Linked DNA regions of Homo sapiens. The protein of the gene in region 3 purifies or fractionates together with the protein of the main gene of each other region. This does not show direct contact. Each region holds a gene or a part of one and is shown on either strand. Other genes may lie near its edges.

The links.
Region 1: the proteins of NPEPL1 (region 3) and HMBS fractionate together in Homo sapiens (co-fractionation; one large-scale study listed by BioGRID). This does not show direct contact.
Region 2: the proteins of NPEPL1 (region 3) and SCIN fractionate together in Homo sapiens (co-fractionation; one large-scale study listed by BioGRID). This does not show direct contact.

The regions. Positions count from the first base shown.
Region 1 is NC_000011.10:119,083,363-119,087,761, reverse strand, and holds the start of HMBS (porphobilinogen deaminase), read right to left. Parts: upstream 2,882-4,399; 5' UTR 2,729-2,881; coding exon 2,696-2,728; exon of another isoform or gene 2,605-2,695; intron 1,952-2,604; exon of another isoform or gene 1,869-1,951; intron 1-1,868.
Region 2 is NC_000007.14:12,643,597-12,647,244, forward strand, and holds part of SCIN (scinderin), read left to right. Parts: intron 1-541; coding exon 542-719; intron 720-987; coding exon 988-1,109; intron 1,110-3,648. UniProt on the Homo sapiens protein: Ca(2+)-dependent actin filament-severing protein that has a regulatory function in exocytosis by affecting the organization of the microfilament network underneath the plasma membrane.
Region 3 is NC_000020.11:58,709,731-58,713,150, reverse strand, and holds part of NPEPL1 (probable aminopeptidase NPEPL1), read right to left. Parts: intron 673-3,420; coding exon 572-672; intron 1-571. UniProt on the Homo sapiens protein: Probably catalyzes the removal of unsubstituted N-terminal amino acids from various peptides.

The DNA.
Region 1 (4,399 bases), on a different chromosome or scaffold from region 3:
CAGATGCCACATGGAGTAGACTAGAGTCTAAGAGCAGCAAGCTGCCACCTTCTCCAGCAAGAGGCCCAGATGTCTGGCTACAAAAGAAGTCAAGAGGATGAAGATCCCACAGTGGGGAAAGCTGACAGTATTAAGGGTCCCTTAATCTGGCTGGACTGCATGCATTAAGGACTGAGGTAAACGGATCTGACGTACAGTCCTGCTCAGCCTCTTGGCTGGGTGACCTTGGGTACACTGTCCCACCAGGATCTGTTTGTTCATCTATAAAATGAAAAGGTTGGACTCAGGTTTCTTCTGCCTCAGATGTTCCATAAGACTAGGAGGCTGCGCTGCCTAAAGTTCGTGCACCTAGAGTGCTGCCTCTGGTTTCACCAACATGGAAATATTAACAGGCCAGAGCCCAAGTCAAGAACTCAAGAGGACACGCCTCTTCCTCCTGCCAGAGTACCTTGGACAAAAGTATTCACTGCTAAGCACGTAGAACTGAATTCTTCAGTCTAAGACGGAGGTCCCATTTCTCTCTTTTTTTTTTTTTTTTTTTAGACAGAGTCTCACTGTTTTGCTCAGGCTGGAGTGCAGTGGCGTGATCTAGGCTCACTACAACCTCCACCCCTGGGTTCAAGCTGGAACTACAGGCATGTTCCACCATGCCCAGCTAATTTTCACATTTTTAGTAGAGACGGGGTTTCACTGTGTTGGCCAGGCTGGTCTCGAACTTGTGATCCTCCTGCCCCAGCCTCCCAAAGTGCTGGGATTACAGGCGTGAGCCACCACGCCTAGCCTGATCCCATTTCTTTCTACATCAGACAGTAGCCACTGTAGATACTGATACTGTCGACAGTCAACATTCCCTGATCTGGGATGTTCATCCTATGTAGTTCCTTTTTTTTTTTTTTTTGAGACAGAGTCTCCCTCTGTTGCCCAGGCTGGAGTGCAGTGGCATGTTCTCAGCTAACTACAACCACTGCCTTCCAGGTTCAAGCGATTCTCCTGACTCAGCCTCCCAAGTAGCTGGGACTACTACAGACGCACACCACCATGCCCAGCTAAAATATGTGTGTGTGTGTATATATATATATATATTTTTTTTTTTTTTCTTTTTTTGAGGGGGAGTCGCGCTCTGTCACCCAGGCTGGAGTGCAATGGCGCGGTCTCGGCTCAGTGCAACCTCCACCTCCCAGGTTCAAGCGATTCTCCTGTCTTAGCCTCCCAAGTAGCTGGGACTACAGGCGCATGCCACCACGTCGGCTAATTTTTTGTATTTTTAGTAGAAACGGGGTTTCACTGTGTTCCCTAGGCTGGTCTCGAACTCCTGAGCTCAGGCAATCCACCTGCCTCGGCCTCCCAAAGTGCTAGGATTACAGGCATGAGCCACTGTGCCCGGCCTAATTTTTATATTTTTAGTAGAGACGGGGTTTCACCATGTTGGTCGGGGTGCTATGGAGTTCTTTTGCACCCAGACATCTGGGGCCTCTATTGCCGAAGCAGGTGACAGCTTTCTGCCCTCAGACTCTGGTCTACTCCATGTGATCACTCCAATAAATTAACCCTGGGAGACCCTTTGCAAATTAGGCTAGGCTTGATATTAAACGTGGCCACCAAAATTCTGGGCCACAGGGAGCCCACAGAAAGGACTCTAAGGTCCCAGAACTACTAGGTTCAAACAATTCCTTAAGTTCATTGAATGTGCACAGCATATCCAAGTCAAACCGTTTCATTAAAAAATAAAACACTGAGCACTTCTATGTTGAAGCTATTGCTTTTGCATATTGTTGTCGTCTCAAAAATCCTATCAGGTGGACAAGACAGGCACCTTTGGGACCATGTTACAGAAGCAACGGGTGGCATCAAGGGATGAGGTGACTTGCCTAGGGTCACAGAGCTAATAACCGAAAGAGAGTTGGGGCCACAATTCAGATCTTCCTACTCCTAGTCCAGGGCTCTGGAATGACTGCAAGAGCAAAGATCCCAGCCCTCACCAACAGGCTGGACAGGGGGAGATTAGCAGCTCCCCATCTCTTTCTTATCTCGGCCTGGCAGTGGCCTCCACCAGCTCTGCAGTTTGTCTGTGCACAAGCCCAGGGCTCGGCAAGCAGGCTCGTAATGGAAAGGCCCACGGCGGCCTCCCACCCACGGTAGTAATTCAGTAGGTGTGTCACAGCTGGGGACTTGGAGCGTTGGCTGTGGCTGGGAGACCACTATAACACAAAAAGAAGGCGCACTTCTAAGACGTTTGTGTGCAGTTCGGAGGCTTGGCTGATACTCTCTCCTATGAATCAAAAGTGGAACGTGTCTTCCCAAAGGGGCCGTATCTGCATCCGCCTCAGCCCAGCCTCGAATGAAAGGACCCCGTCTGTGTAGACGAACGTTCTTGGTCTGGGTCACTAAATCTAGAGCCGTGCATCCCAGGCCTGATGGGAATCCCACCCAGATGCCCGCAGGGACCGGAGTTCCGTTCCAAACAATCCTTCCACTCTTAACCCAGTATCACCGCTCTCTGATTTCCCCATTCCTTCCGGAGGGCAACCGAGCTACTGGCCCTTTAAAAGCTACTCGGACCAAAAAAAAAAAAAAAAAAAAAAAAAAAAAGATAGCCGTTCTGACCAATAGACGACTGAGGATGGCAACCTGGGGCCAATCGCTGCACGGCTCGTCCAGAAGCCCAAAGTGTGCTGGTCACCGGCTCAGCACTCACCGCCGTTGCAGCCGCATTGCCGTTACCAGACATGGCTCCGCTTGGAAAGTAGGCTGTGTGTGGGTGCCGCTAAGGTCCCCCGGCCCCGGGAAGCCGGGGGCTCCGGCCGGCGAGTACCGGGGACACGTGGGACCCGAGGTCGTCCTACAGTCTGACTCCTGGTCTCCGCAGAGCCTCGCGTCACTTCCGGCGCCCTCCCTCGAAGGGGAGGTCCCTCCCTCTGGGCGGGAATTGGAACATTGCGACAGTGGACCTCCCCATTCGACCACCCCATTCCCCAGCTGTGACATGAGCAAGTAGTGCAGCTTCTATGGCGCTTCCTTTGCTCTGTTCAAACTTAGCTTTGCTACAACCTTGAAATAGGCAGCATTTTTCTTTTTGATACGGGGTCTCACTGTGTCCCCAGACTAGAGTGCAGCGGCATGACCACGGGTCACTGCAGCCTTGACCTCCCGGCTTCAGCGATCCCCCCACCTCAGCCTCCCAAGCAGCTGGGACTACAGGCGCACATCACCACGTGGGACTAATTTCTAGATTTTTTTATAGAGACAGCGGGGAGGTGGCCTCACTATGTTGCCCAGGCTAGTCTCGAACTCCTGGACTCAAGCAGTCATCTCGCCTTGGCCTCCCAAAGTGCTGGGATTACAGGCGTGAGCCACTGGCCCAGCCAGCATTTCAATTCTTAAAATGAGGAAACTGGTTCAGAGAGATTAAAGGTCATGCCTAAAGACAAGTAACTGAAGTGGGAGCACAAACGCTACATGTAGTGAGAAAAGGGCTTGTTAGGAAAAGTGCTTTCCCATGAACATAATTTTTTTTTTTTTTTTGAGACGGAGTTTCGCTCTTGTTGCCCAGGCTGGAATGCAATGGCACGATCTCAGCTCACTGCAACCTCCGCCTCCCGGGTTCAAGCAATTCTCCTGCCTCAGCCCCCCGAGTAGCTGGGATTACAGGCACGCACCACCACACCCAGCTAATTTTGTATTTTTGGTAGAGATGAGGTTTCTCCATGTTAGTCAGGCAGGTCTTGAACTCCTGACCTCAGGTGATTCGCCCACCTCGGCCTCCCAAAGTGCTGGGAGTACAGGCGTGAGCCACCGCGCCTGTAATCATGAACATAATTAACAATCATGATTATTAATAATCACCCAGCTAGGTGCAGTGGCTCACACCTATATTCCCAGCACTTTAGGAAGCCAAGGCAGGAGGATTGCTTGAGCCCAGGAGTTTGAGACCACCCTGGGCAACATGGTGAAAACCTCATCTCCACAAAAAATACAAAAATAGCCAGGTGTGGCGGCACACACCTGTAGTCCCAGCTATTCAGGAGGCTGAGGTGTGAGGATCGCTTGAGCCCAGGAGGTCGAGGTAGCTGTGAGCTGTGGTGGTGCCACTGCACTCTAGCCTGGATGACAGAGTGAGACGCCCATTTTTTTTTTTTTTTTTTTTTGAGATGGAGTTTCACTCTTGTTGCCCAGGCTGGAGTGCAATGGTGCAATCTCAGCTCACCGCAACCTCCACCTCCCGGGTTCAAGCAATTCTCCTGCCTCACCCTCCTGAGTAGCTAGGATTACAGGCACCTCCCACCACACCCAGCTGGTTTTTGTATTTTTAGTAGAGACGGAGTTTCACCATGTTGGTCAGGCTGGTCTTGAACTCCTGACCTCAGGTGATCCGCCCACCTCAGCCTCCCAGAGTGCTGGG
Region 2 (3,648 bases), on a different chromosome or scaffold from region 3:
CAACAGGCTCCTGACAAACCTGGTGAAATTCAACTCTCCACATCATGGCTGCCTTCATCCTGGCAGTTCAGTGTGGTTGGCCAAGCAGCACCATTTGGCACAGCAAATCACCCCTGCCTTCTTGAAGCATTTTCCTCACTTGGCCTCAAGATCACTTTACGCTCTTGTTTTCCTCCTCCGTCTCAGCTGCTCCCCCTCAGTCTTGCTTACTGGTTCTTCTTCCTCTTTCTGGAATCACACATCACACTTGTTTGACAATTATACAGAAAGTCATACCAGTGACATAGTAGCACAGTCATATGGTCAGACAGTTCTCACAGAGACAGACACAGAGTCACAAATCCACAAGTGACACAGACCGAAGTGCTCCTACTCTAGGGTTTAAAATACCATAGTGGTGTCCCAGAGCGGCTCTGAATTAATTTCCTGGGATAGGGCAGAAGGCGATGTATGGTTTGCCACAGTCACAGCTTCTGGGACATGTTTATTGAGGGAGCAGCAATGAATTTGAATCATTGTTTTATTTTTCTTCATATTCCAGGTTGATGTTGATGCAAATTCACTGAATTCTAACGATGTTTTTGTCCTGAAACTGCCACAAAATAGTGGCTACATCTGGGTAGGAAAAGGTGCTAGCCAGGAGGAGGAGAAAGGAGCAGAGTATGTAGCAAGTGTCCTAAAGTGCAAAACCTTAAGGATCCAAGAAGGCGAGGAGCCAGGTGTGTGCTCTGGGGCCAAGGGCACTAACTAGAATTTATACTGATACGATTGCTAATCATCTTTTTTTCACCAAAAAGTCACTTTCTAATGGCTTATAAGGGTTAACAATCTCTCCATTAGTTGCAGAGGTGGGTGGGTGATGGTACCTGATTTCTTTAAGTAATTTCTCAACACTGAAATCAAGGTGAGATAATATTTGTTCATATAAAGCGACAGCAAGCATATGTCCCTGAAAATGCACTGGATAACTGAGTGTGTTTTCCACAGAGGAGTTCTGGAATTCCCTTGGAGGGAAAAAAGACTACCAGACCTCACCACTACTGGAAACCCAGGCTGAAGACCATCCACCTCGGCTTTACGGCTGCTCTAACAAAACTGGAAGATTTGTTGTAAGTGTCCTTAAAAATAGTGCGATAGGGCTGGTTGCGGTGGCTCATGCCTGTAATCCCAGCACTTTGGGAGGCCGAGGCAGGCAGATCACCTGAGGTCAGGAGTTCGAGACCAGCCTGACCAACATGTAGAAACCGTCTCTACTAAAAATATAAAAATTAGCTGGATGTGGTGGTGCACACTTGTAATTCAAGCTACTCGGGAGGCTTGAGGCAGGAGAATCACTTGAACCCAGGAGGCGGAGGTTGCAGTGAGCCAAGGTCGCGCCACTCCACTCCACTCCAGCCTGGGCAACAAGAGCAAAACTCCGTTAAAAAAAAAAAAAAAAAAGGGCCGGGCGCGGTGGCTCATGCCTGTAATCCCAGCACTTTGGGAAGCTGAGACGGGTGTATCACGAGATCAAGGAGTTCCAGACCAGCCTGGCCAATATGGTGAAACCCCCTCTCTACTAAAAATACAAAAATTAGTCAGGCATGGTGGTGGGTGCCTGTAGTCCCAGCTACTTGGGAGGCTGAGACAGGAGAATCTCTTGAACCCAGGAGGCGGAGGTTGCAGTGAGCCAAGATCGTGCCACTGGCACCACTGTGTTCCAGCCTGGGCAACAGAGTGAGACTCCATCTCAAAAAAAACACAAAAAACAAAAAACAGTGAGATAGAACCTAACAACGCCGGGAAGGGCATTCCCATGTGGCTCTGACACCTTCAGACATGCTACTGTTCTGAATCTCAGTTTCAGCCTGCCTACAAACCACGGTGACAACCTTTGCTCTACACAGGGTATTTTTTTTAAACTTTTATTTTAAGTTCAGGGGTACATGTGCAGGTTCGTTACATAGGTAAACTTGTGTTGTGGGAGTTTGTTGTACAGATTATTTCATCACCCAGGTATTAAGCCTAGTATCCATTAGTTATTTTTCCTGATCGTCTCCCTCATCCCACCTTCCACCTTTCGATAGGCCCCCAGTGTGTGTTGTTCCTCTCTATGTGTCCGTGTGTTCTCATCATTTAGGTCCCACTTATAAGTGAGAACCTGCAGTATTTGGTTTTCTGTTCCTTACACAGGGTATTTTAAGGATTAATGATATAATTAATGTGAAAGCATTAATGTTGTGATGTCCTATATAGATTAAGCTGTTCTTAAAAGTACTAGCTACTTTACACCTGTGTGAGCATGCAGTTGCTGTATGAATATATATGTGGCTAGATGTGTTAATTTAATAATTTGGCATTTTCTGTGGGCAGCAATCATTATTTCTGATCAAACTATGTAAATTTTACATGTCAATTTCCCAGCGGAGTAAAAATTTTCACCATATTGACTGAATTAAAAATATTATGGAAATATTATGATCATTGGGCAAAAATCACAGAAAGCTATATATGCAGTTACAAATTAACTGATATCAACAGGAATGTTTTATTTCATAGTCATTTACAAGCTTTGACTTCCAGTCCAGTCAGAAGTAAAATTAGAAGTATGTGTATGCATGTCTTAGTTCAAGCTCCTATCACAAAAATACCATTGACTGTGTGGTTTAAACCACAAACATTTATTTTTCATGGTTCTGAAGGCTGAGAAGTCCAAGATTAAGGCAACAGCAGATCTGATGTCTGGTGAGGGACCACTGTCTAGCCTTCTTGTGTCCTCACATGGCCAAGAGAGCAAGCTCTAGTCGTGTTCTTTCCTTATAAAGACAGACACTAAGCAGGGGCACTGTACCCTCATGGCCTCATCTGAACCTAATTACCTCCCAAAGGCCCCACCTCCTACTACCATGCCATTGGAGGCTAGGGGTTTAGCATAGGAATTCTGGAGGCAAACAAACATCCAATACAAAAGAATACAGGAGTGATTTTACACTAGGCTCTGAAATATCATCCTGAACCACAGCCTCTCACCTAAATTTCAAAAAAAAAAGTTATACTTTCTCTGTTTGACGTGCTAAGTTTTTGGTAAATTTTTCATTTAAAGAATGAATTCTTCTTTTATATAAAATTTGATCCACAGATTTTGGTCAACATGCCCTAGTGAATAAATGCAAACTTCATTTTTCAACACAGGAAAGAAAATTTCCCACGTATTTTGTCAGATATTTTGATTACTAGAAATAAAATTATTTGAGATGAAGTGGTTCAAGTCTCCCTTGAAGGTTATAAATGATTTGACCTACAAGTTAAAGATTTAAACAGTGCATTGAGATAAATATTTGGTTGCTGTATACCACAATTTGCTCACCTACTTTACAGGAAATCCCTGAACTTGCTATATTTTATAGATTTGTCATCAGAAAAATCTGCTGTTTTATTGTTTTGACTTGATATTGCATCCAAGCAACTTATTTTTCAGCATATGCTCCTATAATTTCTTATTAGAATTATTTATTAACATTGCTATAAATTAGTTGTTTGTTTCCAAGAAAAATGTATTTTACAAAAATAAGTACCTAGGCTTTGTTCTCAGTGTGTTTAAAGAAAAAAGATCTGTTAGTCTTTGGCTTTTTGTTATGCGTATATATTAGCCTTTAAGAGAAATATACA
Region 3 (3,420 bases):
TTCTGTAAAGTGGGTGGCATGAACCGGCTGGGCTGGCCTTCAGCACACTGTGCCTGGCACCCGGCAGATGGGGAGGAAGAGCAGGAGATGCGGGGAGGCGCCCACTCAGGCACCAGCTCATGGGGCTGGGGAGAGGGCTCTTCTCTTTTGAATTCTGGAGCCACTTGCTCCTCAGCTGCCAGCTCAGCTTTGACTTTCCAGGGTCAATCTCAAGGGGGAGATGCAGGAGGTGTCCCCGAGCAGGGAATCTGGGGGTCAGAGCTTCACACACCCAAAGATTTCAGGCCTAAATTTTGGAAAGACCTGTCCTGGTAATGCAGGGTAGACCACGAGCTCCTGGGCCAGGCACTGCACGGGAGCCTAGCACCTCATCCAGGTGCCATGGGCCCCTCAACGTGAGGTGCGCCTGCTACCAAAGCTCCCCAGCCCTCCGGGAAGCAAGGAGCCTGCTGCCCAGGGGACCCCAACGCTGAGTGCCCTCCCGATATGCCTGGAGTGAGCTGGCATTGCAGGCCGGGAAGGGTCGCGAGTTCCAACAGTGGGCAGGAAGGAGTGGGAGGGCCAGACGTACTTCCCTGAGTACAGCAGGTGGATGTCATCTGGCCTTGTCGCATTGGGCCCCACCGAGTTCTCAGCCAAGCAGAACACAGCGTGGAGGTTGTCTTTGAAACCCTGGAGGGAGAAGTGGGCAGAGGCTCCAGTTGTAGGTCATAGGTTTGGGGAGGGGGGAGGACGAGCTGGGGGTTCTCAGACCCACAGACAGCAGGAGAGAGAGAGATGGCTCCAAGTTGCAGGGACCAAAGCTCGCCCTCCCTGCCATCCCGGGTACAGTCCTGGCAGATCCCAAGGCCAAGGCTCACCACTGGGGTTTCCTAGCCTCCCCTGGCAGAGGCCACCCGCCGCAGTGGATGAGCCTGGGCATGGGCTGGGCTGTGGGACTCTTGGACTGCATGGGCTGGGCAGTCATGAAGCCTCGCCAACCTGTGCCGACAGAAGGTGGCCAGCAGCCGCGTCCCCTCAATACACACACACACACACGTACACACACAGAGGGGCAGGAAGAGCTCAGCCTCGTGGAAGTTTAGGTGTGAAGTTATGGCTTTCTGATGCCAAAAGTCATTTGTTCACTGAGAAATGTGTGGCCAACAGATGGTGGCAGTTCCTGCCCTGCACAGGTTCTAAGGGTGCCCCCTGACCCCGAAGCGGGCCACACCCGGGCAGCAATGTCAAATGGAGTAGAGCTCCCAGACCCCTGTCCCTGCCCTTCCTCTGCTCCCGCAGACGAATCTTTAACCAGAATACATCCTCCTAGCATGGAGCATGCCTCGAGAGCGCGGACACACAGCTCTATAGGATCCAGCGTCTTTCTCATCTCCTGGAACAGCCGACTCTTCCACCACGGGTGCAGAGCCCTCACCAAAGGCAAACACTTGGGATGGTGGGGCAGGGGCAGCCAGCAGGGCAAGGAGTGGCCAGTGGCAGGAGCTGCAGCAGTGGTGCTGGGCATGGCAGCTGCGAGTCCCTGAGACCTCCCTGGGTCCCCGCTCAGTCCTTGAGCCTCACAGATGGCCCCGCACCCCCACGCAGCACAGGGGAAAGAACCCCACCAGCCTCAGGGTGATGATATCGGAGCCACCTGTCAGCTCCACAAGGGCCCCAAGTCCCCCGCTCCCACTCTCGCAGCCCAGCCTGTGTCAGGGACACGGGGCAGGGGCTTCAGGACCCTCAGCCTCCTCCTCTCAGAGCTCCTCCCCAGATACCCCAGCACTGACATTCCATCTGTGTGTACAGTGACCACGGCCTGTCCCTGTGCTGAGGCCTCCTGTGGTCATTCCAGGGAGAAGTGGGTGTTTAGGAACAACGAATAAATGACAGCATGACCCTGAGGTCACAGGATGAGGCCATGGGGCTCCAGGCCATGGACGCCACAGAGATGAGCTCCACCAACAAAGGAGGGGAGCCCTGAAGTCCTCCTAGAAAGCAGAGTTCTGGATCTGTAGCCTGCTGGGGCGTGGGGAGGAGGAGGAGAGGGGGAGGAGGGGGGGAGGAGGAGGAGGAGAGGAGGCGGGGGGGGAGGAGGGAGGAGCGGGGAGGAGGAGGATTCCCAAATGGATGCTTTCAGCCTCCCAGGGAGGGCTGCTACCCGCTGAAGGCTGGGCCCTGCCCCTAATTTCTGATCCAGCAGGTCTGGGGCAGAGCTGAGAACCCATATTACTAACAACATGGGGACCCCACTTGAGAAGTGCTGGCTTAGAAGACGAGCGAGCTGCAGTCCTGGGGCAAACAGTGCTGAGGTCTGCACGGCTGGAAGACGTGAGACAGAGACAGCACAGGCACGGCCCTGCCCTTGCGGCCCTCACGGCCAGTCTGGAGGTGTTCTCCAATCACCAGGAGCGGCTGAAAAAATCCAAGACTCAGCAGAGCTGGAGGTGAGCCCTGGAGCTGTCAATGTTCACACACTTCCTGGGTGTTACCTGGCACAGTTGGGACTTGCTGGTCTAACAGAAGAGGGTGGCCAAAGATGGGGCTGGACTGTGAGTGCTTCAGCGACAGCGTGGGAAGGGTCTCCAGTGCTACGCCAGGGCTTGGGCCTGGTCCCCCAGGGCGGCCAAGGGTTTTGGGTTGGTAAGTGGGTCAGGGGCTTTTTTTTTTGGTGCCAGGCTTGGAGGGTCGCTAACACCCCCAGAGCCCAGGGCCACCGAGCTCCTGGCGTACCCTTCCATCTTTGAATGGTACATCCTCTTTCTAAAAAGTTCAAAACATTTCACTGTGAAATAATTTCAAACTTACAAAAAAATTGCAGAAATAGTCACAAACAGCCAGGAGCAGTGGCCCATGCCAGAATCCCAGCACTTTGGGAGGCTGAGGTGGGCGGATCACTTGAGGTCAGGAGTTCAAGACCAGCCTGGCCAACAAGGTGAAACCCTGTCTCTACTAAAAATACAAAAATTAGCCAAGGGTGGTGGCACATGCCTGTAATCTCAGCTACTCTGGAGGCTGAGGCAGGAGAATCACTTAAACCTGGGAGGCGTTGCAGTGAGCCGAGATCGCACCACTGCACACCAGCCTGGGCAACAGAGCAAGACACCATCTCGGGGAAAAAAAAAAAAAAAAAAAAGCCACAAACAATTCCTCAACACCCTTCACCCAGATTCTGCCAATGTCAGCATCTTGTCCAGCCATGGGACAATGGGCAGCAGGGGGTAGTAATCACCAACACAGGACCATCACCTCTCGGGACCATCCAGATTCCATGTGCTCCTCAGACGTCCAGATCAGATCAGACCACACATCAAGCCTGGCCTGCTTGCCCTCCTTAATCTGGGCGACTGCATAGTCTGGCTTTGTCTTTTGTGGCCTTGGCACTTTCAGTGCTGGGTTTGTCTGACGTGTCCTTGTGACTACAGGCAGGCCATGCAT